Linked DNA regions of Homo sapiens. The protein of the gene in region 2 interacts with the protein of the main gene of each other region in a biochemical or structural test. Each region holds a gene or a part of one and is shown on either strand. Other genes may lie near its edges.

What was found. The genes of interacting proteins can lie anywhere in the genome.
Region 1: the proteins of DNAJA2 (region 2) and ERG form a complex in vitro, tested with the Homo sapiens proteins (one study listed by BioGRID).

The regions. Positions count from the first base shown.
Region 1 is NC_000021.9:38,379,801-38,383,552, forward strand, and holds the end of ERG (transcriptional regulator ERG), read right to left. Parts: coding exon 3,603-3,752; 3' UTR 236-3,602; downstream 1-235. UniProt on the Homo sapiens protein: Transcriptional regulator. May participate in transcriptional regulation through the recruitment of SETDB1 histone methyltransferase and subsequent modification of local chromatin structure.
Region 2 is NC_000016.10:46,971,966-46,975,717, forward strand, and holds the start of DNAJA2 (dnaJ homolog subfamily A member 2), read right to left. Parts: upstream 1,710-3,752; 5' UTR 1,608-1,709; coding exon 1,530-1,607; intron 1-1,529. UniProt on the Homo sapiens protein: Co-chaperone of Hsc70. Stimulates ATP hydrolysis and the folding of unfolded proteins mediated by HSPA1A/B (in vitro).

The DNA.
Region 1 (3,752 bases), on a different chromosome or scaffold from region 2:
CAGCTCACTGCAGCCTTGAACTCCTGGGACTGCAGTTGTGCACCACCATGCCCGGCTTTTTGTATTTATTTATTTTTTTGTAGAGACTGGGTACTCTCATGTTGCCCAGGCTGGTCCCGGGCTCAAGCGATCCACCCGCCTCTGTCCTTCAAAGTGTTGGGATTACAGGTGTGAGTCAACAAGATTTCTTTAAACCAAGGTTAAAAGATAAAAAGAAGGCACAGAATTTGGTGTATTTTTGAGTAGTCCAAAGTAATTTTTATTCTCTAATTAGTCACCTCACGACTTTATTTGAATGAATTAATGAGAAGCTAAATAAACTAGCTTTTTAAAAAATATTTTCTTCTCTTTCTCCAGGCAATGGGTCACTTTGGGGCGCTGCAGAACATCTGTGCTTTCCCTGTGCCCCATCACCTTCCCAGCTCCTGAGCTGTAGCCATCTCTGCTGCACCTGCTGTCAGAGGGCAGCTCCTCCGGCTCCTGCTCCTGGGTTGCAGGTGCCACATCTGTGCAGAAGGCTTAGGAGAAGCAGTGAGCCTTCTAACTGCAGCAGTCCTGACAAAGCACTTTGTGAACCCCTCCGGGACATAAGGGCATCAAACTAGGAACAAAAACACAGTCTTGACTGTGATTTGGTGATTTTACCACATACAAGGCCCGAAAGCCAATTGAAGACAAGAAAAGAAGACAAATCTCTTGCCAGCAGGAGTAAGATTGTACAGGAGTCTGAGTATACATCAGGGCAAGCCAAGAGACAGGGACAAACAGAGAGAAAAGGTTCATGCAATTATGAATATGACCTGGAGGGGGCTTTGGAATTAGATTACAACAGTAACAGAGAGTTAATGCCATTTTGAAACAATTTAAGAATTATGTATTTGAAGGAACTCAGTATTATCATGTTATCCAAAATTATCCCAGTTGCTCATAAGACTTGCTAATAACCTGGACTGGGGGTGGAGGGTTGAGGGATCTAATGGAAAACATCTGTTAAAATTGAATATGATAATCATGTCTTGTTTTTATGATCTTGCTCATGAGACAGTCTTGAAGAGAGAACTGAGTGATTATCCAAGTAAATGTGTATTTCTATGAAGAATGTAGGTGTGTCTTGACTTTGCATTCCAAAATAAAAATGACTGATCTTTTCCATTAGCACAGTTTGGGTCAGCCTAACTGCCAGCTTTCATGATTGTATTTATTTATTTTCCCTAAGGAGATACGGGCACTTTGTGGGCCTTCCCAGGCTGCTGCAAAATGATGGATGGTTGGGCTCCGTCTAATCCAAATGACACGGGGTGTCAGGAGCATTGGTAATCGTGTCCTGCCGACTTCAAAGCCCACTGCCAAAACATCCACAGCACAGAGGTTTGGCAACTTCACATAATCATAGCAAAAGGACTGCAACGTGAAAAAAACAGGCCCTGAAACAGCTATGAAAAGGGCCAGTTCAGAAACCTATTCAGCTAAGATGTTTCGGCTAGCGCCTTCGCACGGTCACCTTGTATTTTCACCTTTTGAGTTGCCTTCACCTGGACCAAGGTTGGCAGCATTTGTGATTCAAAGAAAAGATGCCCAGGGAAACTGACTCTAGATTATGGAAATAAACATTGTCTTCAAGGGATAGCCAGCAACATCAGGCTCAGGGCTAGTGAATCCCAAGCCACAGTGCCCAGGTAACTCTGATGTAGCAGGACTAAAGCTGTCTACCTAGTGAGAGCTCCTGAAAGAGAAACCCCGCAGCAAATCTAGACGTTATCCCTTGTTTCTGTAAAGTGAGAAATTGCAGCTATCCATGACGCTTTATTTGCCAGTAATAATACAGTTTGCCTTACGAGTGGTAGCTTGTTCACTGTTCAACAAATGTATTTTAATCATAGCAGGAATTAAGGGTGATTTGTGACCAGGTGCTGAACTAGAATTTCTCAATGACAACCCCAGCTTCATAGGCCTCTTTCCATTCCAGGCATAAATATGGAGGCTCCAATGTGAAACCCGGGGTCCTTCTGTTCCAAAAGGGGCTAGAAATAAAAGACAGGAGGGGAGGCAAGAAGGACCTGGAGAGGCTGACGCCATTTGGGTGCCAAACATCCTATTTCCTTGGCTCTCCCTTGCACAAGTTCCTGGACAAAGTAAATTATAACACAAAATCCACAACATTCAGCACATGTTTTCATTAAGCAACTTTAGTCACTAAAAAAAGTGCAAATGCAGACTCCTGTATAAATCTGATTTGCCATGCTAGGCCAAGCTTATTTTATTACATACATTCTGCATTCTAAGAACTAATAACTTCATATTGTAAACATTAAGCATACAGAGTTAAAATTCAAGGCCACATTATATCGATTGTCTCTTTTGTCGTGTGTCTTTGGCTGGCCGAGATCAACTCGTAGTGTATAAATGCATAAGTTATATAATTATTATATAAAAAGGGGGAAAAACATTGACTTGTATACTTCATTCTGACAAACGCACAGCGTTCGCGACTCAAAGGAAAACTGGAGGCCGCCTACCCAAAATGCCTGCGTGATTTCTGATTGTGGCAGCCAAGAAGGCCATCTCTTACCTGACCCTGTGGAGAACAAAGCCCCCACATAATGATGAGGTCCTGAATGTTTCTCTTAAATATCAGACAATTCCAGTTAAAATTTTCATTTGACAAACAAAGAAAGAGATGCGCATTTTTGTTTCTGAATTCTACTACTTCCCCTTTCTCCATTACGCTGTGTCCTTTCTCCTAACACTGGGTTTGGTATAACACTGACTGCATGAACCCTCGAGTCTCCATAACTCATTGTACACAGTCCCCAAATGTCCTGAGTCCAGTCTTCATTGCTTGAGAAGTTTCTTTCCCAGCCCTGGTCTCCTCCTTCTCTGCCTCTTCCTCCTCCTTCTTCACCCCTCTGTCTACAATCACACGCTCACTCTATACACATCCTCAGTCCCACCTTTTAGTTCATAGTCCCGGTAATACTGTAAAGGAGTTGGAAACTTTGGGTCATCTTCACAGTTTGAGAAAGCTGACAGCTGTCCATCAAACGGAATGTATTTGATTTCAACCAAAACAGCACATGCCATGCAGTTGCATATCAACGTCTGTTGATGGGCCACAGTCTCTCTCGTGTCTTTTCTCTTGTTTTTGATATGTTTCTATTTTTAAATACAGGTAGTTTTCCTTAAAATGGCATTATAAACGGTATGTTAGGTCAAAACTGTGTTGTTTCTATTGCTTTAGTTTCATCCCAGTTTGCATTAGTGGGATTCCAAACTCTACTCTAAAGTTTATACATTTCTTAAGACCACTTTCTTTGGCACTTTGTCCTTAAGACTTCATGCTTCTACATACACTGTCTTTTACAAGGTCAGTCCACAGATGATATGTCCATATTCGTGACATTTTTAGCATCCTCCTCATTTCTGTAGTAAGACTTCAGTAACTCCCTCCCAAGAGTCTTTGGATCTCTTCCCCGGCTTCCTTCCCCAGCCCCAGTAAAGCTTTTTTCATTCCTCTTGAGGCACTTTTGATTCATGTTCTCCGATAGAGTTTGTGGCGATGGGCTGGTGAATGCACGCTGATGGGAAAAGCCTCCGCCAGGTCTTTAGTAGTAAGTGCCCAGATGAGAAGGCATATGGCTGGTGGGGAGCCTAGTGTTGGGGTATATACCCCCAGTTGGTGAATTCCAGTATGGGTTTGGGGCAGCAAAAAAACTGGAAGATGTCACGGGGAGGGCTGGAGGGTGGGGCGCCAC
Region 2 (3,752 bases):
GGATAAAAACAAAAAAGGTTATAACTAAACACCAGTTAAAAGTTTTGTAATAACTTAATATCCACTTTTCTGAGAAGTAATGTTCTAGAGTTATAACCTTTCAAAAATATTTTCTATTCGTAGGGATTCTTCGGCACTTTCTCGCGATACTGTTTACTAATGTAATATAACCAAGTAGACAGCAGCTATACTTGAAAACAGGTTACAGTGACGTGAAAACCAGATAAAACAATGAAGCAATGCCACAGGGAAAAACAAAACGTTCAAACATTATCCATATTTTCCCTATTGTCAAGTGTCTTTGATGGCCAAGTAACCAGACCAAGACGACCCTAATAAATTCGAGATAAATGACTGTTAAGCTTTGCGGACTGCAAAACATTACTATAAATCAAGCTAAAGTCACAATTCCTGCTCCCGATGGCTCACGCCTTCCTTCTAACTGTAACATCATGAAAAAGTAAAGGTGGTCCTAGTTAGCGTCTTTTGGTGTTTTATTTGCACGTGGTGGTTAACTGGGGTCGTGGTGGCAACTTCGGTGGTAGAGAAGTTGCACACACTCTCAACGAGGTGTTTGGGTCCTAAAGCACTTAAATCTTCATTCACGGAGGCTCGTGAATTATATAATACAGACTAGCATTTCCGGTAAGGTAACAGGAAGTCCACTGTACTCTTCTCACTGCCTAAGGAGCATTCTCATTTTTCTCGGCTTACAAATCTGGATGCTCTTAGCCTGGTGAGGATGCTGTGGGGCTTAAATGCCTCGTGTGCTTTGAAATCCTGAGATGAAAGATATCGCAGCATTGCAAATAGCAATAATAAGGCCTTCTATTTATGTTTACTGTACACTCAGGCGTTTGGCTGGGACCACGGCTTATTCCTAAGCAGGTACAGGACATTAGCATTACCTGCCCAAAGAACAATGCATCCAAACACAGACCCAGCTACCTCCGGGTCAATGGGCGAGGGACGCAGAGAGGGAGGAGCTCCCGCAGCCGGCGGCCGCGGAACCCAGGAAACAACCCCATCCGCCCGAGGCGCTCTGTGGGGGCGGCCTCGACCTCCCCGCCGTTCCTCCCCGCGGAGCACCAGACCCGGGGCCGACGGCCGCGGGGCGGACAGCTTCTCTCTCGGGGCCGGGATGCGCTGAGCACCTCGGTCCAACCTGTTTTTCCGGGGTGGTGACCTCGACGCGAAGGACCGGGCGAGCTGCTGCCTCCCGGGGGATACCAGCCCCCGGCGCTCGTTCAAGGAGGGAGGAAGGAAGGGCTCCCATCGTGTTTGCGCAGGAGTGAGTTTTATTTGCTGCATCTGCGGGCGGGCGGGGCCGGCGGCCCCAAGGTCAGCCGAGGCCGGAGTGCGCGGCTCGCGGCGAGGCCGGTCCCGCCGCCGCCGCCGACTCCCAGCCCGGGCCAGTCACGGCCGGCGCCGGCTCGCGGGCAGCCCAGTAGCGCGGCCTGGCTGAAGAAGACATCCCTGGCCGCGCAGGCCCCGCGCCCCTCACACCCGCCCGGCCCGCTCCCAGATACCTTCTTCAGCTCGTTCTCGCTGGCGCCGGGCGGGACGCCCAGGATGTCGTACAGCTTCGTGTCAGCCACGTTAGCCATGGCGGCCGGCCGGGCAGTGCTCGGGGAGAAGGTGGCGAAGCAGACAGAGCGGAGTCGGGCCCACAAGCGGCGTCGGCGGCGGCACAGGCCGAGGGAGACAGCGAGGGGGAAGCGGGGGCGGGGCTGAACTTTGACCCAGCGCACGGTGCGCCGTGACGTCGCTGTGCAGAGCCCGCCCCCGAGCGCCCGAGGCGCGGCCACTGGGGTCGAAGTATTGAAGAGTGGGCCAGGTTCTCTGTTTTCCTCCAGGTCCAGGCGGCTGGGCAGGGCCAACGTAGGAAATGAAGAACTGTGCACGGCGCACCCCAGGAATTCAGCTTCCTCTCAAAAGCCATGGTTGCGAGGTCGCGTGTTTAACCTCGCACTGGCTGCTGAGGGAATTAACAGGCCTGCGCAGCAGCTTCGTTAGCTTCGAAAGAAAATGGGCCCCGGCTCCCGCAGGAGGCCCGCCTGGCGCGCAGATGTCGTTATTAGAATCCGGGACGTCGGTGGACCCTCTGGGTCTGGCTCCCTCGGGGCTTACGATGAAAAAAACTGGGGGGCGCGTGTGTGTGTATGTTGTGTTTTATATTATGAGAATTCTGAAACATTTAGCAGAAGCAGTATATTACTCCCCATAGTGCAGTTAGCTACCTTTTACCTGTTTCATTGGCTCCACCATACATTTCTAGTGTTTTAAGGGAAACCGTTTCATTCATAAATACCCTAAGTGTATATATTTAATATCTAAGAGACAACTTTTAAAGGCATAACGATGTAATCTCATCTAATGAAATTAACAATTCCTTAATCTAATTCCCAGTCCATATTTAGGTTTTTCAGATGATCTCATGTCCTTTTACAATTGGTTTGTGGCATCCGGGTCCAAACCAAGGTCCACATGTTGCATCTGGACCACGTGTTTAAGCCTCTTACTTGATAGCTTTAAAATTAGCTAACACCAGAGGTTTAGATGGTGTAAGGCAAGTCTGGCCACCAGGTGACTTGATTTACATTCGTTTTAGTTTCGCTCAGAAAGTATGCTGTGCATCTACCAAGTGCTATGATGTACAGAGGCCTGGTCCGGGGAGAGGAGTGTTACAAAAGTGCCTGCCTTCAACCCATTTACGGTTTATGGAGACAGAAAAGTAAGGTTTTCTGATCCCTTGGAACCTGAACTGATAGCAAAGACTTCAGCATAAGCATCTCACTCAGGATAATGTTTCTTCCTTGGCGTTCCCTTTGACCTAGTTGTGGAGGGCCTGAATTCCATGACAAGGACTCTGAAATTTAGCTTGAAAACCCTAAGAGTAATCAGTGATAAGTCATTAATAGTCCTTAAACCCTTTTCCTCAAATCCCATCTGAAATCCTGCTCCCTCTGTGAAGTCTTCCTTTACTGGGCACTGGTGAACACTGCTATCTCATTCGAGTTCCCACCACCCTTCGTTTGTACCTTTTGTGGTAGGATCTCGAACTCTTTTGTTTTTTTTTTTTTTTTTTTTTTTTTACTTGAAACAGCGTCTCGTTATGTCGCTCAGGCTGGAGTGCAGTGGCGCCATCTCAGCTCGCTGCAACCTCCACCTCCCGGCTTCAAGTGATTCTCCCACCTCAGCCTCTCGAGTAGCTGGGATTACAGGCGCCCACCACCATGCCCGGCTAATTTTTGTATTTTTAGTAGAGGTGGAGCTTCACCATGTTGACCAGGCTGGTCTCGAACTCCTGATCTCAAATCATCCACCCACCTTGGCCTCCCAAAGTGCTGGGATTGCAGGCCTGAGCCACTGCCTCTGCCAACCGCCATTGCCGTGTAAATGCTGACGTCATCCTCATGCACGGCTGTAAAATCCAATTCTCTACTTTTCACATTTTGAGATGTTCGTAAGAGACGGTGTAAAGTTATGGCGAGGTTAGACTGTGTAGGTTGGTAGTCTGACTCTGCCATTTAGGAACAATGTGACCTTCAGCAAGTTACTTAACTTTTCTGAGGTTTCCTCAGGTGTAAGATGGGGCTTGTTATTTTTTATATCATTGGTTTAAAAGAGTTATACATTTCTATTACTTAGGGCTGGGCGCAGTGGCCTGTAATCCCAGAACTTTGGGAGGCTGAGGCGGGATCACTCCTGCCTCAAGTCCTGATCACTTGAGGTCAGGAGTTCGAGACCAG